Linked DNA regions of Homo sapiens: all the other regions are linked to region 2. The links come from fine-mapping of genetic effects on plasma protein levels. Region 2 holds a variant in brackets. A gene starts in each other region. All regions are shown on their forward strands.

Evidence for each region. A credible set is the group of variants that fine-mapping cannot tell apart. PIP is the posterior inclusion probability: the model's chance that the variant is causal. The UK Biobank Pharma Proteomics Project read protein levels with antibody pairs (Olink). The fine-mapping took linkage between variants from a reference panel, not from the people measured, so its PIPs are less certain.
Region 1: CPXM1 starts here. The variant in region 2 is the best candidate, but not a certain one, in a credible set for the plasma level of the CPXM1 protein (UK Biobank, PIP 0.76).
Region 3: SCRN1 starts here. The variant in region 2 is the best candidate, but not a certain one, in a credible set for the plasma level of the SCRN1 protein (UK Biobank, PIP 0.65).

What each region holds. Positions count from the first base shown.
Region 1 is chr20:2,797,180-2,805,359 of GRCh38, forward strand. It overlaps CPXM1 (carboxypeptidase X, M14 family member 1), which reads right to left and starts at 3,448. Exons shown (of 14, transcript NM_019609.5): 1 at 3,222-3,448; 2 at 1,547-1,714; 3 at 1,249-1,358; 4 at 973-1,112; 5 at 789-879; 6 at 13-163. The coding sequence starts at 3,393. RefSeq lists enhancers at 1,030-2,017, 2,018-3,005, 3,006-3,991.
Region 2 is chr1:199,038,233-199,046,412 of GRCh38, forward strand. It overlaps LINC01221 (long intergenic non-protein coding RNA 1221), which reads left to right. Exons shown (of 3, transcript NR_126351.1): 2 at 3,324-3,440. Among named protein-coding and RNA genes, the nearest start is that of LINC01222, 23 kb to the left of the region's middle. The variant C/T (reference allele first, on the strand shown) is at 3,360.
Region 3 is chr7:29,985,132-29,993,293 of GRCh38, forward strand. SCRN1 (secernin 1) reads right to left here and starts at 4,670. Exons shown (of 8, transcript NM_014766.5): 1 at 4,511-4,670. FKBP14-AS1 (FKBP14 antisense RNA 1) reads left to right here and starts at 3,525. Exons shown (of 3, transcript NR_187577.1): 1 at 3,525-3,662. RefSeq lists silencers at 3,897-4,016, 4,107-4,376, 4,387-4,436, 4,457-4,796.

The sequences.
Region 1 (8,180 bases), not on the chromosome of region 2:
CTGACTGCCCACCTGAGACTGGGCAGGCCAGGATCTCTGCCCGGAGGCAAGGCGCGCCTCCCTGGAGCCAGGTCTGGGGCAGCAGGCGAATGAAGCGGGCCACCTGGGGCTCCGGCAGGAGGTTCAGCACTGGAGTTTCTGGGTCTGAATTGGCAGGAAATACCTGGGGGCAGCAAGTTCTCTGTTGTGGCTGCTCAAACCCCAGAAGCCTGGCCCAGGACCCAGGGAAGGAGCTCAGGCCTCCAAGCTTACTGTCTCCCCACCCTAGTGGGCTCAGCTAGAGACTTGCACTGTGCATCAAACACAGACCCCGGCCCACAGCCCCTGCCAATGGGCAGCCCTAGGCAGCCTTGCTCTCTGGATTGGACACAGTTCATTAGACCAGTTTGGCCACATGACTCGGGGGAAGCCAATCCTAGAGCTGGCCAGGACTCCACATTGTAGCCTGCTGTAAAAAGAGGTCCATGAGATGCGGAAGTCAGAACCACGAGAAGGCAAGAAGTGATGTGGACCAGAGGCCCCGGGCCAGAAGGGGCACGCCAGGAGGAAGCTGTACCGTGAAGCAGCACCCACCCTGTGGTGGCATTATCTGGGGAGGATGTGGGCATGTCCCAAAGCAGCTGGCTCCCAATGGTGCCTGCCGTGTGCCACCCTCTTGACAACAAGCCACACCCCCCTGGGAAGCCTAAGCTGGCGTCTATTCCTTGTCCTCAGAGGAGCCTCAGCCTAGCCTGGACTGGGTGCCCAACTCCCAGCATGGAGGCCCCAGCCACAGTGGGACCACTCACTGCGTCCATCCCACTGCTGTGGTTCCTACTTCCCCACCAGGTCCGACTGTCATTGCTGAACTGGACCTTGTATGATGTGACCCAGTCATACCTGGCAGGAGAGGTGGAGAGAGATCATCGGTGCCCCCAGGACTCCCACCCCAGTCCTTCTGTGACCTCCTGACCTAGGGTTAGTCTGCCTCACCTCCAGACAGAGTTCCTGCCCTGTGTGATAACACCCGAGAAGCGGGTGGGGTGCCCAGCGTCCACCTGAAACCATGGATCGGCGTCCTGCTCCTCAGCACACCAGGCTCCATCATATAGATCGCCGTCCTCCAGGCCTGACTGCAGACACAGGACATGGTGGTCAGGCCCAGTTGGACAGAGTGGGGCAGGCCAGGACAGAGAGGAGGCAGGAGAGAAGCTCCCAGGGGCTGCCTTCCCTACCCTGAGACCATGGCTCCGAGCCAGGATTACTGACCTGAATGTTGAGCCGTCCTCGGTGTGGTCCAAGACCAAAGGACTGGCTGCTGGATGCCTCAAGCCGGCTATCTGAAACTCGCAGGGACTCCAGACCCAAAGGAGGACAGCCTGGGGCGGGGATAGAACAGTGAGACAGGACCAGAGGGAGGGTAGCCAGGGCAGGTGGGAAGCTGAGCCTAAGGTTGCTCCTGCGCTAGGCAAGCAAGGGGCGTGCCGGTGCCCATGAGGCCAAGAGCTGTGCTGGTAAAGTGCCCCAGGGGCTGCAAGTCTGGGCTGGGCCCCTGGAGAGGAAGTACCTGTTTCTTGTTTCTCAGCGGGGTCGAGGGTCCCTGCTGGAGTGGGGGTCACAAGGGGCCCGGCAGTCACCAGTGGGGTGGGGCGAGTTAGAGTTAGCTTCTTCCGCTTCTTCATAATGACCTTTTTCTTCTTGATGACTCGAATCCGGACATGCTGTTCTGAGGTCCCTTGGGGTCCGAGAGGCACAGCATGGGGGAAAGGAAGAATGGTGAAACCCCGGATGGAAAGGTCTGCCAGCCCAAGAAGACATGTGAGCCCACAGCAGGCCACACCACCAGGATCTAACAGCCTTCACAGGACATCAAAGGCCTGCAATCTGACCCCAACCTGCCTCTCCAGTCACTTCCTTGGCTCCTCCTTCTCCTCCCTGATGTAACTACATGCTTGGCCAGCCTCCCCTGTGAACCTCTAATCCAATGGAGAGCTGCACCCAGCCTCTAGAAACTGTTCGGTTGCTCCAAAGAGCTGAGTCTGGCACTTTACCTCCGGGCCTCTGCACTAGCTATCCCCTCCCCTGTAATGCTACCCCTCGCCTCTGATTTTTTCACCTAATTCCCATTCTTCCTTTGCATCTCAGCCCAGATGCCTTTCCAAGGAGGCTTTCTTAGCTCCAGACTCAGCATCATGCCCCAAAACCCCTGTGCCGCTTCCATTGTTGTGTCTGCTCTCTGGGCTCAGATGGCCTGTCCTGGAATCCATGTCTGCCTGGGTGTCGAGGCTTTCAGGGCTGGGCCTGCCCGCCGGCCCTTCAGCACAAGGCTCTGCCCAGGCAGGTGCTGGGGGTACCCATCGAAGCTCCACAGCTGCCTCCAGAACAGGCTGCCCATTTCCGCATCTGGTGCCCCTGTGCCTTTGCCCGCCGCTTCCTTCTTGGCAGCCCTCTCTCTCTCTCTCTCTCCAGACTCCCCTGACTCGGGGACATCACCCTTCAAGACCCTCCTCCACTTGCCTCCTCTAGAAGCCCCTGAGTGCCCTCCGCTTGCGCTCCTCCTCTCCTATTCCACATCTGGAAAGCTGGGAGGTCGGGCTGCCTTCCTCTCCCGCTCTGCCCCATCCTCCCGGCAGCCTCAGCGAGGGGCTCTCCCTTCTTTCCTTTTGTTCTTTCTCTCCAGCCCTCGCCTTCAAACTCTCTCCTACGCAGTCTTGCTCTGCACCTTGAGAGCTTCTGCCCCTCTGTCTCCCCTCCTGCCAGTTCTGGCCTGTTTTGTCTTTGGTGAAAAGGGAAGGTTTGGGGCTTGGAAGAGGCAGCATCCCACTGGCGCCTGTCCTGGGACTGCTGACTAGGTCTGGCAGGGAACTGGGGCTGCCGAGTCAGCAGCCATTGCTCCCAGCAGGGAGTTGAGGGAGTGTGAGTGTGTATATGTGTGTGTGCACTGTGAGTGTGAGTGTGCGCGCGCGTGCACTGTGTGTGCGCGCACGCGCGTGTGAGTGTGCGTGTGTGTGCATGCGTGTGAATGCGCGCGCGTGTGAGTGCAAGTGTGCGCGTGTGTGAATGTGTGTGAGTGCGCGCGCGTGTGTGCGCGTGAGTGCGAGTGTGCGTGCGGGGTGAGTGTGCATGACTGTGAGTGTGCGTGGGTGTGCGTGTGCCCGCGTGTTAGGGAGGGATCGCCCCACGGGGCAGGAGAGCCGGGCAGTCGGCTTGCGGGGGAGCGGACCGTCGGTCGGGGAACTCACCGTTAGCTGTCTCCGCCGGCGGCTGTGCCGGGCTGCTATGCAGGGCCGGGGTCGAGCCTGGGACCTTGGTGGTCCCGGGCTGCGCGAGGCCCAGCACCGAGTTCCTGGGCGCCCCCAGAGCCGGGCCGACGGCCGGCGCGAAGGCGGCCAGGGCGAGCAGGAGCCCCCACATGGCGGGGATTGAGTGCCAGGGGCGCGCGGGCTACGGCGGGTGGCGGGTCGGTCTCTTCCTGCCGAGTGCGCCGAGCCCCCCGCCCCTTCCTGCCCCCCGCCCCTCCGCAGCCTCCTGCCCGCCCACAGCCCGCTGCCCGCCTCGGACCTCGGAGAGGAGGAGAGGGCCGGGAGGAGCGAGCGGGGCTGACCTCCAAGGGGCCGCCCCAAGTCTCAGGACCGCCGACTCTGCCCTTCCTCTCCGCCGTCTGGGGCCAACCCGCCTCGTTGGCGCGCTGCGCCTTTATAGTCTGCAAAGCCACACTGAAGAGACCAGAGATCACCTGGTGGCCATCAAGTCGACCAACAGGAGGCAAAGCCCCTTATCTGAGCAATTCAGAATGACACTTCCCTATTGTCTAAAGCCACATCTGGTACCAAGCTTCCGTCCCAAGAATTTATAAGTAACTAGAATTTCTGTACGTTTCCGGAATGAGTGCACGTTAAGACCCATTGTGCAAACTTTGCTGACATCAAGGCACCAAAATATCGACAAATGTAACCATTTACCATGACCTAAGTGACTAATGTGGTCCAAATTACCCTGCAGTTCCCCGCAGGGAGCTCAGTCCTCTCTTGCTGAAGCGCCTACTGCGCTCTGCTGCCTCGTCCTTTCCGTCTAATAAAACTTTCCTTTTCAGACCTACACGGTTGTTGATAAGTTCTTTTACCACCCGGGAGCCAACCACTTCCCGGTTCCGGAGCTCTGACACCTCGCCTGGCATCTTGGTGGCCCATACGGGGACTTCACTGGGATTTCCCTCTTCCTTTTTCTCTCTGCTTCCTTCCACGGTCTGGTTCTTTACTCTTTGGGGAACTGCCGGTCCCGGTGGAGGCAGCTCTTCTGTGGGATCCTGAAGCCCTAGAGAAGGGATACCTGGCTGTCCTTGCCCTTAGGGGTGAGGGACTGGCCAGGGCTCTTTTCTGTTTTCGGACTGCCAGTGAACCAGCTTGAGTTCTCGTTGGCAACTGACAGTTTCTGGCCAAGCGCCATCCCCCGGTATTACCCCAAGGCCAAGACAAAAGAGCTATTGCCTGTCAGAGTGGCAGGGCACTTTCATTTTAACACTCCATAAGCCTTGTCCTGGAAGCGGTGGATCTCAATTCTACACAGGGATGCCTCAGGGATCTTGTAGTTCCTTGTCTAAACCCAACTTCGGTTCAATTAATTCAGTTCCATCCAACTCGCCCTTGGATTGCCTCCTTAAAAATGGTCCCATTGGTCTCATTTTGACCCACAAACTCTTAAAAATAAGCATATAAGGCTGAGCACAATGGCTTATGCCTGTAACCCCAGCACTTTGGGAGGCCAAGGCAGGCAGATCACCTGAGGTCCGGAGTTAAAGACCGGGAGTCTACTAAAAATGCAAAACTTGGCCGGGCACAGTGACTCACACCTGTAATCCTAGCACTTTGGGAGGCCGAGGCGAGTGGATCACCTGAGGTCAGGAGTTCGAGATCAGCCTGGCCAACATGGCGAAACCCTGTCTCTACTAAAAATACAAAAAAAAAAAAAAAATCAGCCAGGGGGCTAATTATATGTGGCGGGCACATATAATCCCAGCTACTAGGGAGGCTGAGGCAGGAGAATCACTTGTACCCCGGGGGCGGAGGTTGCAGTGGGCCAAGATGGCGCCACAGCACTCCAGCCTGGGCGACACAGCAAGACTCTGTCTCAAAAAATACAAATAAAAAATAAATAAGAGTTTAAAAAGCATATCCTTTTTTCTAATATTGCTTGGGTTCAATACAAGCTCCCTAATCAATCAATTTGGCCAATTAATGAAACTTGGGATTGCAATGCTACTTTACAACTTAACTGATTTTTTGCCGGAACCTTGGAAAGGATTCAGAAGTCCCATATGTTCAGGTCTTTTTTGCTTTATCCCCAAATCCAAACCCAAAATTACATACAAATTGTCATGTATGCTTCCAAGGAACGTCCTCCCTTCCCGGTTCTGATGTCTTAGATGATCCTTCCTTTTGCCTATTACATCCTCCTCAACCTGCTCACTCTTCACCTACACCCTCTCCATCTGCTCCATTCCCTAGTCAATCTCCCACCCACATACCCAAATACTTTCTCCCCTTCACATACTCTCAGGGGAGTCACATATGCTACTAGTACAGAGTCCTCAGAAAAATCCCCAAAATATTTTGCCTCTCCCTAAGGTGGCTAATGAAGATTTGGGAACAAGCCAAGTTCATGTCCCTTTTCTGATCATGTCTGATCTTTTGCAAATTCAATCCAAGTTGGGTTCATTTAGTCAGGATCCCTCTAAGTTCATTCAAGAATTTCAGACTTTAACTGTTGCCTTTGATTTAACCTGGCAAGATGTATTTGTGGTATTAACTACCTGCTGTTCCCACACACAAAAAATCACACGTGTGATCTTCAGCATGGGCAGATGAAGCTCATGCTCCCAGTCCTAATAACAGAGCTGGGCAGAAGCTGTCCCCAACATAGAACCTATTGGCAATACCAGGCCACCAATTCTGGCCCAAACAGAGGTAAGGGCAGACAGGATCATATGGTAACTTCTCTGTTGGAGGGAATGAAAAATATATAATAAAACCTGTTAATTTTTCTAAATTATAAGAAATAATAGCTGGGCGCGGTGGCTCACACCTGTAATCCCAGCACTTTGGGAGGCTGAGGCGAGCGGGTCACCTGAGGTTTGAGACCAGCCTAGCCAACACGGAGAAACCCCATCTCTACTAAAAATACAAAATGAGCTGGGCATGGTGGTGCATGCCTGTAATCCCAGTTACTCCAGAGGCTGAGGCAGGAGAATCGTTTGAACCTTGGAGGCGGAAGTTGTGGTGAGCTGAGATTGCGCCACTGCACTCCAGCCTGGGCAACAAGAGCGAAATTCCATCTCAAATAAAATAAAATAAAAAGAAATAATAATTTTGTATGTATGAAACTATCTGAAAGCCCTGCCCTTTTCCAAGCTAGACTGGTGGAGGCCATGCATAAATACACAAATTGAGACCCCAGGGGCCAGGTGTGGTTGCTCACACCTGTAATCCTAGTACTTTGGGAGACCAAGGCGAGGCGGGCGGATCACCTGAGGTCAGGAGTTGGAGACCAGCCTGGCCAACATGGTGAGAACCTGTCTCTACTAAAAACACAAAAATCTGTGGGCATGGAGGTGCATGCCGGTAATTCCTGCCTTTTAATGCTTATATCTTCCAGCTTACAATGATTCCACCTACAGATGACTATGCAATCCCAATACCAGCCTGCAACAGCAACTTCTATTTTCATGGGGCCTCTTGATGGAATCTGGTCTTCCCTCCATGAACAAGTTTATCATGACCCTTCATTCCCTTCATGACAGAAAGCAAGAAAGGAATCCTTTCAATGCCCCTTTTCAGCAGGAAGTAGCCAGATAGACTGGACACCCCTCTTCACTGTGCCATTTTCCCTTTCTTGGGATCCTAACAGACAAGTAGACATGAGCATGGAGAAATACAAAGGGTCAAAGATTTGCCCAAAATATTTATCAGGGGGAAAATGAGGAGAGCAAGGATCACCTGGTGGCCATCAAGCAGACCATCAGGAGGCAAAGCACCTTATCTGAAGAACTCAGAATGGTACTTTCCTATTATCTAAAGCCACATCTGGTACCAGGCTTCTTTCCCTAGAATTTCTATACATCTCCGGAATGCACGCATGTTGGAACCCATTGTGCAACCTTTGCTGTCATCAAGGTGCCAAAATGTCTACAAATGTAATCATTTACTATGACCTACAAAACTAATGTGGTCAAAATTACCCTTCAGTTCCCTGCAAGTGAGCTCAGGCCTCTCTTGCCGAAGCATCCCGCTGCGCTCTGCTGTGGAGTTCTTTCCATCTAATAAAACTTTTCAAACCTATACTGTTGTTGATAAATTCTTTTACCACCCGGGAGCCAACCATTCGTGGCTGCGGCTCCCGGGGCTCTGACACCCAGCCTGGCACACAACATTTCACTTAGCCCCTCGAGGCCCTTAGCCTGCAGCAGACATCTACTTTGTACCATGCACTATGCCAGGAGTTTTACACGTGGCCGCTCAATCAAACTTCATTTTACAAACTGATAAACTGAGGCTCAGAGCGGCTAATGACTTGGGCGAGGTAGCAAAGCTGAGAACTTTGGGAAGGAAACTACAACCGGAGAGGAAAAGCTATCCAGAGCCAGAGGCCCCCTGGCAGGGCGGGTGGGACAGAAGGGGGAAAAGAGTGAAGGGAAAATGAGGCGGCGGGGGGCTAGGGGGCGACCCGGAGCCTGGGGAGAGGGCTGGTCCCGGAATCCTCCAGAAAGACAACCCAAGGGGCCCAAGAAGAGGCGGCACGGCGGCGCTTCCCACCACCACCATCACCAAGCCCGGCCCTGCCCCTCCTCTCCTTTCCCTTCCCTCCCCTACTCCTTCGCTCACTCACCCGGCTGCCACGTCCCGTCCCGGGGTTACATAACCCGGAGAGAGAAGCCTGAGCGATAGCCTGCGGGCTGGGGCTGCGGTGGAGGAGCCAAGGGTTGATGCACTGCCTGACCTGCCCTCCGGCTCCTCGCCCCCAGCCCGTATTCTCCTCGGGGAGCCGGCAGCCCTGGGTCTGCCCAGATCCGGAGATGCCCTTCCCGCCCTCCCTCCAAGACCCCCTTTGGATCCTGCATTCCTGGTCATCTCTCCAGAAGGAAGGAAACGCGTCCAGCGGTGTGCCTTTGGCCGGCGCTTGGCCTTTGCAAAGGGCTCTCCAGGGAG
Region 2 (8,180 bases):
CCCACAGGCTGCCATTTACCATTATCCAGTTTTGATAATGAGTTTGAGCAGGTATTTTTCTCTTTGATTCAAACTGATCTTCTAGTGAAAGAGCCCAAAGGGAAGTAATCTTCTTCAATTCAAATTTCCTATGCCAGGACCACTGACAACCCTGGCAACTGCAACCACTAAAGTCATTAAGTCGGATAATGGCTATTTACGTAAAGTTCACACAATTGTTAAATTGATTCCAGATGTCTAAATAATCTGCATGCACATTAGCAGGAAGTATATCAAATATATACGTGTGTGTTCTATATACATTAACCTACCACCTGTCAGTTACATGAGAGTAGATAGCCCAGAAGTAATAAAGCCTTACCACATGTAAATTGTAGCTCTGAAGGCTACCTTCACTTACATGAGCTCAAATCCATATAGCTAACTCACCTTTACTTTTATCAAAATTGCTTTGAATTAAGGATGGGAGAAGAACCTTGGATACGGACACATTAGTTACATTAAAATCAAGTCTGTTGTGAACCTAAGGTAAAAGCTGAGAGGAAGGTTTAAAAGCAGGTATTTTCTTTCCATTATGCATTCCAAGAAAGGATTCTAGTTGTTGGGAATCTATCGTAATGCTCTTGCTGAAGGTTCCTCAAGTATAACTCGGGGTCTATGTCCCTACTGCTCTTTGGAAGAGAACAGAATTCTTTTAAAGATGTGGTCTACAGCATAAAGTATTATGTATTAGAAATATTGATTCATGTTTGTGAGTTCCCCTCCACAACTCTAATGAACAGATTATCCTAGATGTAAGATGATCTTTCAGTCCTGGTAGGGCTCTACAGTTGCCCTGAAATTACAGCTGTCTTAGGGAGAAATTTTCTTAATTGCTTTAATGTAAAATTATTTATATGTATTTATTTATTTTCTACTTAGAATATTTTAGTTTATTTTTTGCCTTAGGGAAATTTTAAAATCACAATAATGTCTAATGTTCATAAATAGAGATTTTTAGATGTGATGCACTCAAGAATTTCCTAGGCGCTGTCTTTAAGGTTAACATACCTATCTGGGGCTAGCATGGTTTAGGGTCTTGAAGGACTGCAATAGCACTAGTAAAAGGAGGAAAAGAAGATGTACTCTTTTGGACAGAGGAATTTTTTTTCTATCTTCTGTTCAAAGAATAAAAGCAAATATGAAGGCATATAAAATATTTGGAAAACACACTCTAAATTTGGTGTATTCAATAAAGTATAAAAAGGATAAAATAATAAAAGCTGTTTTGCCGAAGGTAATATGAGTATCTTGTAGCTCTTCTCTTAAAGAAGTGATTCTGAAATGTTTTAGCATTTACTTTATCAGAATAATAAACTCATCAGATGAATGCCCCTGCACCCACTTCATATATAACTGACCACTGCCTAAAGCCATGGACTTCCTAGCAGAAATCTCTCCCTGATGTTCTATCTCCTATCCCAAACCATTTCACAGTTTAGACAGGCAACTGAGGCAACTACACACAGATGTGATATATACCTCAAAAGTTTTGTAAGAAACTTTTATGGAGTTTCAGATGAGGGGAAGGCTTTGTCCTGTTGGAAGAATCTGAGAGTTCCATGCTGGAAATTTCATTTCAATTTGAACCAAGGAATGGACTACACTGGATCTCAATAGGAACAAGCTGGTTGAGCATATTCCAGACAAAGGACTAATGTGATCAAAAGATCAGAGAAAATAAATCTCTGACATGACTGGTGACCAGGTCAATTCATCAAACAGGTGGGTCAAGAAATAATGCCATTTGAAAAAAAAAAAACGTTAGAAAGTTGGTTGGGATTGCATTATAGATACCCCTGCATATCAGATTACATTTTGAAAGATTTTTGCTCTTCATAAAGGAAACTGTGGCAAATATTCAAAGAAATTTGTGATCTTATTAGAGCTGCATTAAGAAGATTAATATGATTAAATTCATAGGATGGAACAAGAAGAGAAACTAGAGGTGGGCAGAGAGAGGCAAAAGCCCAAACTAGGGTGGGGACATTGAGAATGGAAAGGAAGTGACATATTGTGAAAGAAAAAACACAATTTGTGGTTACTTAAATGTACAGAAAAACAGCATAAGCAGATTCTTAATCAACAATTTGCCAATATTTGTTTTACATATTAATAGAGCCGAAGGGTGTTTTCATAGTTTTAGGAGGTGCTTCAAGAGATCTGTGCCATATCCTTCTCTGGAATGTTCACAGTGTTAACACATCAAAGTCTATGAGAACACCTGTGTAAAGATACCAACTTAACTTTATTTCAGCAAGAAATTATCCAATTTATTCCAGTAGATATTGGCATGTCTGTAGTTGTATGTGGAACACCTATTCACAGTCTAAAAACCTAGTATTCTTTAGTACACACTTTCTGGTGCTTAGAGCAATAACAAACATTAGCTGTCAGTTCTGCCTTTTGTTGAGACAGAGCCATACTTTCTTGTCATTTTTATTCCACACATGTCATTGCTTATCAGTGTGTGCTTATTGAGGGGAGGGGTAATTTTGAGCCATAACATAATTTATGTTATTGAATCATCAAATATTTTGAACTAGAAAATGTTCTAATCTAGCATCACTCAGTTAAAACTCTATTTGAAAATATCTTGGAAACATATAACAGAATGAAAACCATAAGAACAAAGACCATAAATCCAGAAAATAAAAATGAATGAAAAGATCAAGATATAATATACAAATGACAGTTAAACTTTTATAATTCCTTAATTTATGAAAAATAATTCAAATACATTTAGTATTTTACAAATGAGCAGGTAAAATAATTATGATTTTTAAAGGCTATATTAAGATATTATTTCTTTATAAGAAATGTAGACATAATACTTATAATTTGTTTCTGCAGTTAATAATTAACATGGGTCTTTTTTTAGATGAAAAATCTTGAACATGTAAAGAAAAGTCTTGACATTATTTATTGTATTAGAATAAAGTACTAGAATTCTCTCATTCCTTATTAAAAAATTAAGCCTATGTTACCATGTTTGTCAATCTCATTTGATTTTCTATTCTTAGGTCTAAAGTTTCTAATAACAATTTAATGCATTTATCAGTAAAACACATGCTTAGAATCCAAATGTATTAAAATTTTTGCTAAAGTAAGCAAAATAGACAAATAATGAAATGTTTTTACTTTGATTTTTAGAAAAAAGGTAAAGAATTTTATTCTCTAAGAGAGCAAAACAAATTATCTTATGGTGACACTAAGACAGAAAAGAGTTTGTTTTCATTTCTGGTATTCTTTGCCAATGTTTGACAGTTGAATTTTTTTTCCAGATGAGAATTGTGCATCAATGTTCAAGTCCCAAGAGA[C/T]GTTATCAGTCTGAACAGCCCAGTGAACAAGTATTTGTGACTCTCCTTCCAAATGAAATGTTCTACAGAAAGGTGGAAGTGGTAAGAAACCGTTGAAACAGTGGTTAAGAAGGTAGGTCTTTGTGGTACTGATGGGAAATAGTCGTTAGGGGAAAGCTGCTTCACCACACAGGAAACAGAAAAACTCTTGAATGCATCTTGTCCAGCTGTGGCAGAAGAATTTACATAGATAACATTTTAAAACCAGAGAGTTTGTACTCAACTGGTGACCAAGAAACGGAGAGATGAAGGGCTGCAGGCAGAGAGTAGAAGGGAAATATTTTAAAGTTACAAGACTTACAAGCTGTGCATTTTGCAAATCACATAGCTACTTATCTTCTCAGAAAAGATGTTTAAAATAGAGACCTACACTTTATCATATTGAAAACCAAGCAATCTCAATGAAGGTTTTTAAAAAAATGTTTACCAAACCAAAAGAAACTCAAGGAAGCATTTTATAAGCTAACAGAGCTATTATTGAATGCCTTAAAATGGAAATATTTTTATTGTCTAATTATAGATATTGAAAAAGGTAGTAAGTATAAATATTCATAATAAATATTAAAATAGTAACAACAAAGTTTGCCACTTTTTCTCACTTAAGAGGAACTGATTTGGTTTTGTGATTTCACTTAATTATAATGAAAATTCTATAAGCTCAGAACTGCCATCCACATATTATAGATGAGCAAACAGACTCACAAAGATTGAGGCTTTTGACCAAGCTCCTAGGGCTTAGGCTTTGAACTCAGATGTGATGGAGTCTGAAGCTTGTGCTTGTTAAACATTATTGTGCAACTCCCATCATAATAATTTGAACAGTAACAAAAATAAGTACATTCTGTGTTTGGTTCGTTCTCTCTTTTTTTAAGTTATTTTATTCTTCTTCCAGCATGTCATATATATTATTCTCCATATAAGGAAATATAAGAATATATTCATCCTTATATAAAATGTTGGAAATGCTCTCTTGGAAAGGTTTCTTTGTGGCTTCTGGTTTTGTTCATTACTTTGCTTTTAATGATCATTATTATTATTCTTTCACAATATTGTAACATACTACCAGAGTCATTTTATTGTAAACACTTTGAAAAACATACTTCAACAATAATATTGTGGCTATAACTCAAATTCTCACCCACACGGAAAAATTGTGTGTTTTTGCTATAAAATATACGTGGTAAAAAGAAGTGTGAAGTAGAAAATGACAACAAAGTTGCAATAAATTCATTAAAAGCATAATTCATTGGTCTTTCATTCTATTCTATTCATCTAGTGAATTTATCAGATTTTAAGTGGTTTCTTAAAGCACTTAAAGTAATTTCTTCAAGCAATCTAGATACTATTACTGGGGAAAAACATCTCAAAGGCAAACACTCTTAGTATATCAATCGCTAACTTGAGACCATGTCACATAAAATAGTTGATGTGCATATTCTTTACTTCTTTTTGCCTATTTCATGGGATCGCGTTTGCTAGGTACCCAGTCTAGCAAGAAAGCCCAGTTGACATTTCACCTTCTAATCAATATCTAAGCAAACATTTTGAACACTATCTTCTTTCTTCTCCTTCTTTCCCCGGTCTAAGTACTTCAGGCAGGTGCTATCTGATTTGTACGTGTTTTAGCCATCATTATACCTTTCATTTACATGAAGCCTAGTTCATTTCACATCTGAGGCCTCTTCCAGTTCACATAACTCTCCCAATTACTTCTTGAAAATATGAAGAGTCAATCTCTCTTTCCTTTTTTAAAGTACTTAGAAAACTTCTTCATTTCCTAAATGTTTGGGTGTCATGTTCTAATTGAATTTTCATCAGGCTACAAGATAATTTAAAATGCTACTTTACTGATTTTCTATTTAGGTTAAATACTACTTTCTAATAACATATTTCTGTGTGCTTTACAAGCATGCACAATTCATGCATGATGCTTGTTTAGTCTCTCCCAGAGCTAAGGCAGGCCAAAGAATGATTTAGATATATCCTCTGGGAGACAAACTTTTATGTAGCAGGATGGCTATATTGTAAACATTTAAGACTTGTCTGAAACTCTCTACAACGTCCATATTCACATTGTCACACTGTCCTTTAATACAGCTCTTTTGGATTTTTAAATATAGTAGATTCCTAGGATTAAAGCAATTAAAATGGGAGCAACCACTTGTAGGAATCTAGTCCAATCCTCTTATTTTATAGCTAAGGAAAGTAAGACTCAGCACCATAAACGTATTGAAGATTGGCTCAAGGATCAGGTTGTTTTCTGATTTCCAATATTGTGTACTTATTCTAGTATAATTACTAGCAATTGATTTTTACTCAGTAAGACATTAGGCCCAGGGTCCCAGACCAGATAAAAAAAATAAATGATCAAAATAGCTTGAACCATTTTGGCCTAAATATTTCTGGTTTAGAGAAAAATATGGTATCAATGGATTTTATGAGGCCTGAGATGCAATATTTGAATGTCCTCATGATCACTGATTCACTCACTTTTAGATTTTGAATGTCATTTTAATGGCTTTTAAAGATGATCATATTATTTTGGTCCAGTTGGATCATTAAGGCATTTTTTTCTAAAGTAAACCACATAAAATCACTAAAATGGAATAAATCTAAGTTACAAGGAGGACTAAGACACAACCATGAATGAGTAAATCTAAATTCTATGATTAATGACTTTGAGGACCTTGTACTTGACTTCTGTAACAGCATTTAACAAATCCTTTCATCAGAATCATTTCTCATGCTGTACTTTAAATGAAGTTCTTTGTCTGGTCTAGAGCAAGCTGGAGAAGAGCTGGCAAAGAGCCTTTGGTCACATATTTCAAATTCGTTAAGCATCTTTAATCTTCCCCTTGTAGATAAAATCTCTTCAACCAAATCTCCTAACTTGGTTCAGATAGTTCATAGTTCATAGTTTCTGAATCCCCAGTGTGCTCTGCTTTCTAACCCTGCCTTGCAGTTTCTTCTATACCTTTCATTAAATCCATGATGAAATTTAAAACACACAAGCAGAATGATGTAGGCTATAAGCATTAAGGAAGTTAAGGAAGTTGATTCGCCATTTGTGTTTTCATACTGTTTCTTTGCATTCCTACATCTACATAGATAGATGTTTTATCTTTCACTATATTATTTACTTATCTCTATCTTGATACACTTTGAATAAATAACTAGCCTCCACCCACCAATTTTAGTTGATTTCTTGTTAAATTAAAATTAAAATGGCATACATGCACATTTATGTACACACACACACACTCATACATAACACATACACACAAAATCTTCTGATCGCTGATCACCTTCGATACTTACTCTATTCATACCTATACGTCACAATTTTTGTACTATACCCTTTAAGACATACATTCTTGGTCCCGATGTGTGTTCTGGAAAGACGTTTTGAATTTGCTATTTTTCACTGGCTTTATAAACAACAGGTTGAGAATAGTGACATTGGAGTAGTTAAGCTCTAATATGGTGGAAATGAGTAGTTCTTACAGACTGAATAGGGGAAAATAGCAGAGGACAAAGAGAATTTTATTCAGATTTTTAAAAAAATAAGTTCTAGAATTTAAAAAAGAAATCAAATATGTTAAAAATAGAAGAGCAAATTGGAGAAAGACTAAAAAAGAATAAGAAGGAAATGCAAATTTAAAGAAGTGCAAGTCTGTTAGGCAAAATGTAAGAATATTGGGAAAAAATAAGTTAAGCAGACTGATTATTTTGGCAGCACAAAATAAAATATCAGTATCTATCTATATATCCATATATATAAAAGAGAGGAAAGAACAAACCACAAGTCTGAAATATTATTATACTAAGAAATAATAAAGTATCATCATTGCTGCTATTTCCCTTATCTTTGGTCATATTAAATATGACCAAAATAATTTTCTACAAATTGAACCTGATATTATTGTATTACTCAAGTTAATGTATAATGCATTCTACACTTTTCTCCACTTTTACAAAATACTTATATTGCATTATTGCTCAGTCAGTTTATTGGATAATGTTGATCACTGTAGACATCTTTAAAAGTGCAGGACATGGGGAAGGGGGAACAAGATGGCTGATTAGATGCAGCCAGGAGGCACTGCTCCCACTCAGAGAGACCAAATTATCAAGTAAACCACCATAATTCGGGAATGTCTTCAGAAAGAAAATGCCGAACTCAATGAAGAGGTGATGCTGAAGCTGAGACTGAACAGGGAGGAAGCTGGGAACCCCATGCAGGGTACCTGAATGCTAGAGCTAGCTCCTGAACCTGAATGGTTCCTGGGAAAGAAGTGAATGAAGGATGACTCACACTTGTCATGAACCTCTGGGATCCTTGCTACAGGGGACCCCACATCCCCCATGGACTTATGAATTGTCTGGAGGATCTTCCTAGGGAGCAGGCAGAGACAAGCCTTCAGACAGCATGGAGCCTGGGAGCGTTTGTTCACTGGGCAGCTCCAGCAGAGAGCAGCCATAGATGGCCACGCTCCAGGGATCTCTATGCACCTCCGGGAGGCACTGGCCTTAGCTGACCTCTGAGCTAAGAGAGAGCAGGGCTGGTTTCCCTGTGGGACTAGAGCACGTGTATTCCATAAGCCCTCCTGCCCACTGGCCTCTCCTGCCCACTGGCCCCCATAGGGTCCATGCCTAACTGTTCTGCAGAAAAAAGTTCACAGTGAGGCCTCTGCAGTCCAGTCTGAGTGCATTGTTCCACAAGAATACTTTCCTGGTAACCCAAGAGCACATCAGATCCCTCAGCACAACTAGAACCCAACT
Region 3 (8,162 bases), not on the chromosome of region 2:
CGCGGTGGCTCACACCTGTAATCCCAGCACTTGGGAGACTGAGGCAGGCGGATCATGAGGTCAGGAGTTTGAGACGAGCCTGACCAACATGGTGAAACCCCGTCTCTACTAAAAAATACAAAAATTAGCCAGGCATGGTGGTGCGCACCTGTAATCCCAGCTACTCAGGAGACTAAAGCAGGAGAAATCACTTGAACCTGGGGGGACAGAGGTTGCAGTGAGCTGAGATCACGCCACTACACTCCAGCCTGGGTGACAGAGTGAGACTCTGTCTCAAAAAATAAATAAATAAAAATAAAAATAAAAGGAAGGAGACTGATAAGTGGTGTGCTCAAGGCCAAACTCCTAATTAGAGGTGGGACCAGAGCTAGGTCCCAGGTCCCCTAACTTGCAGCCCAGGGCCCTCTCACTGTACTGGGGTGTATTCATCTCATTTCGATATGGGAACACAGATGTGTCAGAATGAGGAAGTTACTTTCCAATGCACTGTGCAGTTATGTTAGCCATGCTATTTCTCCATCCTAGCTGAAGTCCCACCACCATAGACCCTGACACTCCACTGTCCCCATGTCCTAGATCACCACGTAGTGTGCTTATTCTGCTTCATAGTCTCATACTCAGCAGTCCCAGCCCACCACATACTCCTTCTCTCCCTTTACAGTTTCCCTGGTCACTCACTTCTTGTAGTCCCTTTTCCGTCCATCCTGTCCCCTTTTCAGTTTCTGTTTTAACTTCTCCTTACATACCCAGTTCTACAAACAGCATTATGAGCTCAGCCACCCTCCAGTTCCTGTTAAAAACCACTAGAAATATAATCCAAGGGCTGGGCGAGGTGGCTCATGCCTGTAATCCCAGCACTTTGGGAGGCCGAGGCGGGCAGATCACCTGAGGTCAGGAGTTCGAGACCAGCCCGACCAATATGGTGAAACCCTGTCTCTACTAAAAATACAAAAGTTAGCCGGGCTGTGGTGGCGCACGCCTGTAATCCCAGCTACTCAGGAGGTTGAGGCAGGAGAATCGCTTGAACCCTGGAGGCAGAGGTTGCAGTGAGCCGAGATCGTGCCACTGCACTCTAGCCTGGGTGACGGAGGGAGGCCCTGTCTCGAGAGAGAGCAAGACAGATGCGAACCATATTTGCAATTTTATATTTTCTAGTAGCCACATTTTTAAAAGTAAAGAGAAACTCATGGAATTATTTTTAGTAATATATTTTACCCAATATATCCAACATGTTACTTCAATATAAAATCAATATAAAATTATTAATGATATTTTAAATTCTTTCTTCATATTAAATTTTTGAAATTGTGTGTATATTTTACACTCAGCATATCTCAATACAAACTAGCTGCATTTCAAGTGCTCAATAGCCACATGAGGCTGGTGGCTACCAGATGAAACAGCACAGATCTAGACTCTAATGAAAACGGATTTAAAAAAAAATAACTTTTGTTTATCTGTATTCTTATTCTTCAACAGACACAAATTGCATGCATTTCTGTATTTTTACAACTTGCTATTTTAAATATCTTTGGCATATCTTCACATTCATCCTCTAATGCAAGTTAGTTTTCTAATTTTTTTAATTTTTTTTTTTTTTTTTTTTTTTTTGAGACGGAGTCTCGCTCTGTCGCCCAGGCTGGAGTGCAGTGGCACCATCTCGCCTCACTGCAACCTCCGCCTCCCGGGTTCAAGCGATTCTCCTGCCTCAGCCTCCCAAGTAGCTGGGACTACAGGCGCGTGCCACCATGCCCGGCTAATTTTTTGTATTTTTAGTAGAGACGGGGTTTCACCGTGTTAGCCAGGATGGTCTCGATCTCCTGACCTCGTGATCCGCCCGCCTCGGCCTCCCAAAGTGCTGGGATTACAGGCGTGAGCCACCGCGCCCGGCTGCAAGTTAGTTTTCTAAATGGCACATGTCACATCAGCATCTGTCTTCACTTCGATATATATATTCATATTTAGCTCCTATCTGTTCCACTGCCTCAAGACATTCTCCCTGTTCCCTGCCTCCTGCCACCTTCTCCCTCTGCACATCACTGGCTGTGAAGGTTCAGATGCCCAGAAGAAACGTTTTCCACATCTTCACCACCTCTTCACACTAACCCATGCACAATTTCTAGCTCTGCTTTAGTAGATCTAAGGTCACTGACTCATGACTCAGAAAAGTCAAATGCAAATCATAGGAAAAGCCTGTCTTCACTGCTTCAAAGTTATGTTTACAATAGGCTTGTTATTTACTTTTACTTAAAATTAGAAACAGTCGAAAAAAATGAAATGCATGGCCTACTTTGGTTCCTTTTCAAAATAAACTGGCCTAATGGTTCTCCACAAACACAAGCAACTCAATTTTTAATCAAAAAATGTACTTCTTGCCTCAAAGACTTTACTAAAATAATGTTTTTGGTTCTTAACTATAGAAACAGTTTCACCACTGGAAAATGTGAACATGAGGTAGATACAGCTTAAGAAGTTAAAAGTCTTGAATTAGGAAATTAAGGTGTTGTCATTGACTTTAAACACCTATAGACTTTGTAATTCATATTACAGTTTGGCTTCCCATTGCTCGAAGTGTTTGCCTTCCTAATAATGACAGACTTGCTGTTCTCCCCCAGGCTCTAAAAGGTAGCATGTGGAACCCGGGGGAGTTATGAGACCTGGATTTGGGTTCTCACTGCCAGTTGACAGCCAGATATATGATCTTGGCGTCCATTCGCCCCGCTGGCCTCAGCCTTCCTGCTGTAAAAAGGGGGTTGACAGCAGGCTCCTTAAGACTGCCTCCACCTCTGCCCCCCGACCTTAGCTCATCCTCCTCTATTCCATTATCCCTGAAGCATTTGCCTCCTCATGTATCTCCTTCCCAAAAGACAAGATGGCTGGCAGCACGGAAGTGAAAAGGGAAAGAAAGGCTGTTTAAAAAAAAAAAATTCTAAAATGAGTCACCTTTCAAGAATTTCCCATTTCCTCATGCCTGGGTGCTTCCTCGTGTCGCTAAATCAGTTCTTCCAATGAAACTTGATCTAAGAACCTGGTATTTGTTATGTGCACTGCTCTTGGATGATGTTTACAATGTGCACACATCTCTTTTAAGAGCTTGTAGGTATCAAACGACCTCCAGGTTGTGCATCAAAAAGACATCAGCAGCCACAGAGTCAACTTTAGTTGAGCCTGGAGAAAATCATACAAAACCGTAGAGTTTTAACTAGGTTTTGTATCATCTTTTGATAAGTTAGGAAAAATAATTACAGCTCTCCAAACTTCCCACTTAACAACTCCCAGGACCCTGCAGCACCCTAAAATCTAGCCAGCTCCAAGAATCACTCTCTACTCCATACCCGGATGAGCCTTGACTCACACTAATTCCCTCCCTGAGGCTTAAGTCAGGGGGCAGCTGATGGTTGTGGTCTGTGCTGCTTCCGCCTGGCCTATTTTTCATGCTGCCATTTTGAATTAGCATAGGTTTCCTCCGCAACTGATGCATCTTCTAACCAGGCTGGGAACACAACACGCGCACACGCGCACACACACACGCACGCACCCACCCCACCCGGCTGCCGGACGCAAGCGTAAGTCAAGGACTTGCATGCTAGAATCAGACAGAAAATCCAGAAAAGCCACGTTATTTAACAGAACCCTACAAGGTCAGCTTTGAGTCAAAGCAGGTAACAGTTTCCTTCGATGTTTTCATGGACATTTTTATTCCCAAATCCGAGTTCTCGCCAATTCTCTAAAGTTCAAGCGCCCCTCCTGCTTTGCAGACCACATTTCTCTCGGCCCTCGCGAGTGAGGTCGCCAAATACTCGACGCCTCAAGAGCGAGCCGAGGAGGCAGAGGCCGACCAAGCCGGCCTCTCGGCAGCCCCGCCCGGCGCCCCGCGGAGAACGCCCGGGTGCGGCTCGAGGGAAGTTGTGTCAAGTCCCACGCGCGGCCCGCGGAGAACCCAGGGGCGGCCCGCGCGCGTCGGCCTAGCGGGGAGGGCTGCTCCGGGACACGGTGCGGCGGCCGCGGGCGAGTTGGACGCGCTGGCAGAGCCGGGCCGAAGGCGGCGGGCGTCTCCGGGCAGCCATGTTCGCGGCGCCCGCCCGCGCAGCAGGTACGGCACCTCGGGGAAGGTGCCCGGCTCGCCCCAGACCCCAGGGTGGCGAGGCCAGGGGCCCACAGGCACATCCCAGTGGGCAGCAGGTTGGCTGCCAGGAAAAGGAAACCCAGGAAGAGCAGCGCGGGGAACCCGGCTGCGGTGCGGGAGCCCGGGGCCGGCATCCCTCCACTGCACCCCCGCAGTCCCCGAGCCGAGTCACCCCGGCTTCAGGCCGAGGCCACCTCTCCTCTGACCGCCCCCAGGCTCCCAGCCCGCCCGGGCCAGCACCGGGAATCGGCCTGGGGTAACGCTACCCGCGGGTTCGGAGGGACAGCGGGAGGAGATGAAACGCAGGAGGTGGCGATGGCGGGTGGGGTGAAACCGCCGGGAAAGCAGCGCTGCAAACGCCCTGCGCTCCCAGACGCGGCTCACCTGGGGCGGCGGGCTCCGGGCTCCGCTCTCCGCTCTGCGGTGCTGAGGCTGCGGCCGCCGAGGGTGCGGGTGCTGCCGGGTCCGGATTACTGCGGCGACCTCGGGGGCTGCAGCTGCAGTGGCGGAGGCGGCCGCCGGGCGCTTCCCCCTACCCAGACTCCCGGCGCTGGGGCCCGCCGCCCCCCGCAGCAGCTGGCCCGACTCACGTGACCGCGGGCCCACCCTCCGCCTCCCCCACCCCGGCCCCCGGGGCCCCGCCGCACCCCGCGCGTCTGGCTGCACGGGCCGCGGCGCTGCTCACCGTCGAGTAGGGAGGGGGCCTGGGAGCTGGAGGAGCGGCCGAGAGGGCGTATCTCGCCGCAGAAAGTGGCCCCCTCTTTGCTAGATTTTTATTTCTTGGTTGTGGCTCTCAAAAGGGAAAACCCGGGCTTCAAGGAGCCAGGCCCAGCATCCTTTTGGCGCCTCTTCCCGACGTTTGGTTGCTACGTCCGGGCCTCGGCGCCCACACAAGATTTCCCCGGAGAGAAATGTGTCCTGTACCTTGTTGACTCGCACGTCCAAGTCGAGTCCCTGGTTTTAAAAGTGCCGTCCTGTACCATGTTGGTAAGCCAGACCCTGTCCCAGGTACTTGGACATTGTGGCCTAGAGAGGTTAAGTAACTTGCCCAAGGTCACACAGCACGTAACTAAGCCAAGATTCCATATCTGGGTTAATAAAGTTATGTACAGGGACTTGTGTGTTGTGTGTCTGTGTGTGTGTGTGTGTGTGTGTGTTGATGCCAGCGTCAACTCCATCTTTTATAAGTAAATAAGAAAAGACTATCTCAAAAGATATGAAGACGTAATTCAGAGGAAAATAAATGCAATTCTATCCTGGCACACGAAAAGATATTCAGGCTCACTTAACTGCAAATCAAATATGTGGGGTAGCATCTTCCACCAGCCAGATTAACAAAAATCAAAACATTTTGAGTCTTGCTTTGTCGCCCAGTCTGGAATGCAGTGGCAGGATCTCGGCTCACTGCAAACTCCGCCTCCTGCCTCCCGCCTCCCGCCTCCCGCCTCCCGGGTTCAAGCGATTCTCGTGCCTCAGCCTCCCAAGTGGCTGAGACTACAGACCCACGCCACCAGCCTCGCTAATTTTTTTTGATTTTTAGTAGAGATGGGGTTTCACCATGTTGCCCAGGCCGGTCTCAAACTCCTGAGCTTAGGCAATCCGCCTGCCTCTACTATCCAGCTTCCTTTAAAAAGGAGAATGATCTTTATTTGCTAATACAAAACTATTTCCAACCTATACTAACTAAAGAAAAATAAAAAGCTAGGTGCAGAACGTTGTGTGTGTTATTTGTGGGAAGAAAATATATATGTATGTCTGTACTTATTTTTGTAAATGCACAGAGTATCTTTGGAAGAGTACGTAAGAACCTGTAATAGATGCCACCAGGGAGCAGAACTGGGAGACTGGGTGCTGGGGAGAGAAGGAGACTTTTTTCCATGCCCTTTGAATGTTGAGCCTGTGCTTACAGTCTGACACATGAGTAAACGGATAGTGGGGAAGGGCTGAGGAAGTTGGTGTAGGTACTGCAGAATAGAGCATTGGTTCGTAGACTCTTGGAGCACAAAGGTACTTTACTGTTCTTTTAGTCTAGCCAAGAAAACTGTAGCCAATGAGTCTAAATAATCAATATTAGAAATTTCTAGCGGGCTTATTCCTGGGTTCCAGCCCAGATCTATGGAATTCAGAGTCTCTGGGGCTGGAGCCAGGGAACCCGCATTTTTCAAGCTCTTTAGTTGTTTCTCTTGCATGTTAAAGTCTGAAAGTCCGTGAGGTGTGGGTAGGGAGAGCATTAGGAAAAATAGGTAATGCATGCTGGGCTTAATACCTAAGTGATGGGTTGATAGGTGCAGCAAACCACCGTGGTACACGTTTACTTATATAACAAATCTGCACATCCTGCATATATACCCCAGAACTTAAAATAAATATTAAACTTTTTTTAAAAGTCTCAGAGTCGCTGTTTTATTTTTTGTTTGTTTTGAGATGGGATCTCGCTCTGTCACCCAGCCTCGAGGGAAGTGGCTCACTGCAGCCTCTACCTCCTAGGCTCAAGTGATCCTCCTACCTCAGCCTCCTGAGTAGATAGGACTACAAGCATGTGCCACCATGCCTAGCTACTTTTTAAAATATTTTTGTAGAAATGGAGTCTCACTATGTTGCCCAGGCTGGTTTCAAGCTCCTGGACTCAAATGATCCTCCTGCCTTAGCCATCTGAAGTGTTAAGATTACAGACGTGAGCCACCGTGCCCAGCCAGAGTCACTGTTTTAAATGTCTAGTTTAAGACTACACCACTACTAGAAAGGCAAATGCAATCCTGTGCCTTCCTATAGCCAGTATATGTCATTTGTTGTGTAAAGGATGGCACTTGCACCCTACGCTGCTCCCCTGGAGGCAGCCATATGCTCAGTACACGGATAGGGGATACTGCCAACCTGCCTGCCTGGCCTGAGATCTTTGAAGCCTGTTGGTTTGTCCCTACACAGCCACAGGAGCTTTGAGGCCAGGAGCCCAGGAACACATGGAGATTGAAAGACACCTGCTTTCCCCAGGGTCTGCATGGAGAAGCTTATTATATGGCACTATGAACGCTTATTAAACAGCAGCAATGACCGGGCATGGTGGCTCATGCCTGTAATCCCAGCACTTTGGGAGACCAAGGCGGGTGGATCACGAGGTCAGAAGATCAAGACCATCCTGGCCAACATGGTGAAACCCCGTCTCTACTGAAAATACAAAAATTAGCTGTGTGTGGTGGTGCGTGCCTATAATCCCAGCTACTTGGGAGGCTGAGGCAGGAGAATAGCTTGAACCAGGGAGTCAGAGGTTGCAGTGAGCCAAGATCGTGCCATTGCACTCCAGCCTGGGTGAGAGAGTGAGACTCCGTCTTAAAAAACAAAAACCAGCAGCAATACACTTATTTTGTCTCTGCTTTGTATCCAAAAGACAGTCCCTACTATTATTTGAGCTGCATAAATAGAGATAAGAGAACAGAACTGTCCAACAAATGTGGAGAACACCAAGAAATATCAGTAAGGGCTTTAATCATTGGCCTCTATCAATTATGTGAGGTTTAACTTTGAGTAAATTATAAGATTTCCATGAGCTAGCTTGCAAGGAAAAAAAATGTCTTAAATGACTTGCAACTGTTACACGGTCATTTATATTCCATCTAGTCATATTCAGAGACTTAAGAGCTAAAAAATACAAGTATAACAGATTTCCTTTTTTCTCTTCCGCCCTGAGAAGGACATGATCCCTACAGAGGTTACTCTCTGCAGCTGAGGCAGAAGGAGATTATAGCTAGAGGCTGTCTGCTAAACATGTCTGGAGGGTACACTCAGTGATGACCACAGATACTAATAGTGTTTTCAGTTTGGAACAATTATGAATAAAGCTGCTAATAATATTTATCTACAAGTTTTATGTAAGTGTAGGTTTTCATTTCTCTTGGGTAAACATTAGATTGGTGCAAAAGTAATTGCAGTTTTTGCCATTACTGTTTTAAAAATGGCAAAAACTGCAATCACTTTTGCACCAACCAACCTAATACTTAAGAGTGAAGTGGGTGAGTCATACGGCAGGTGTATATTTAAA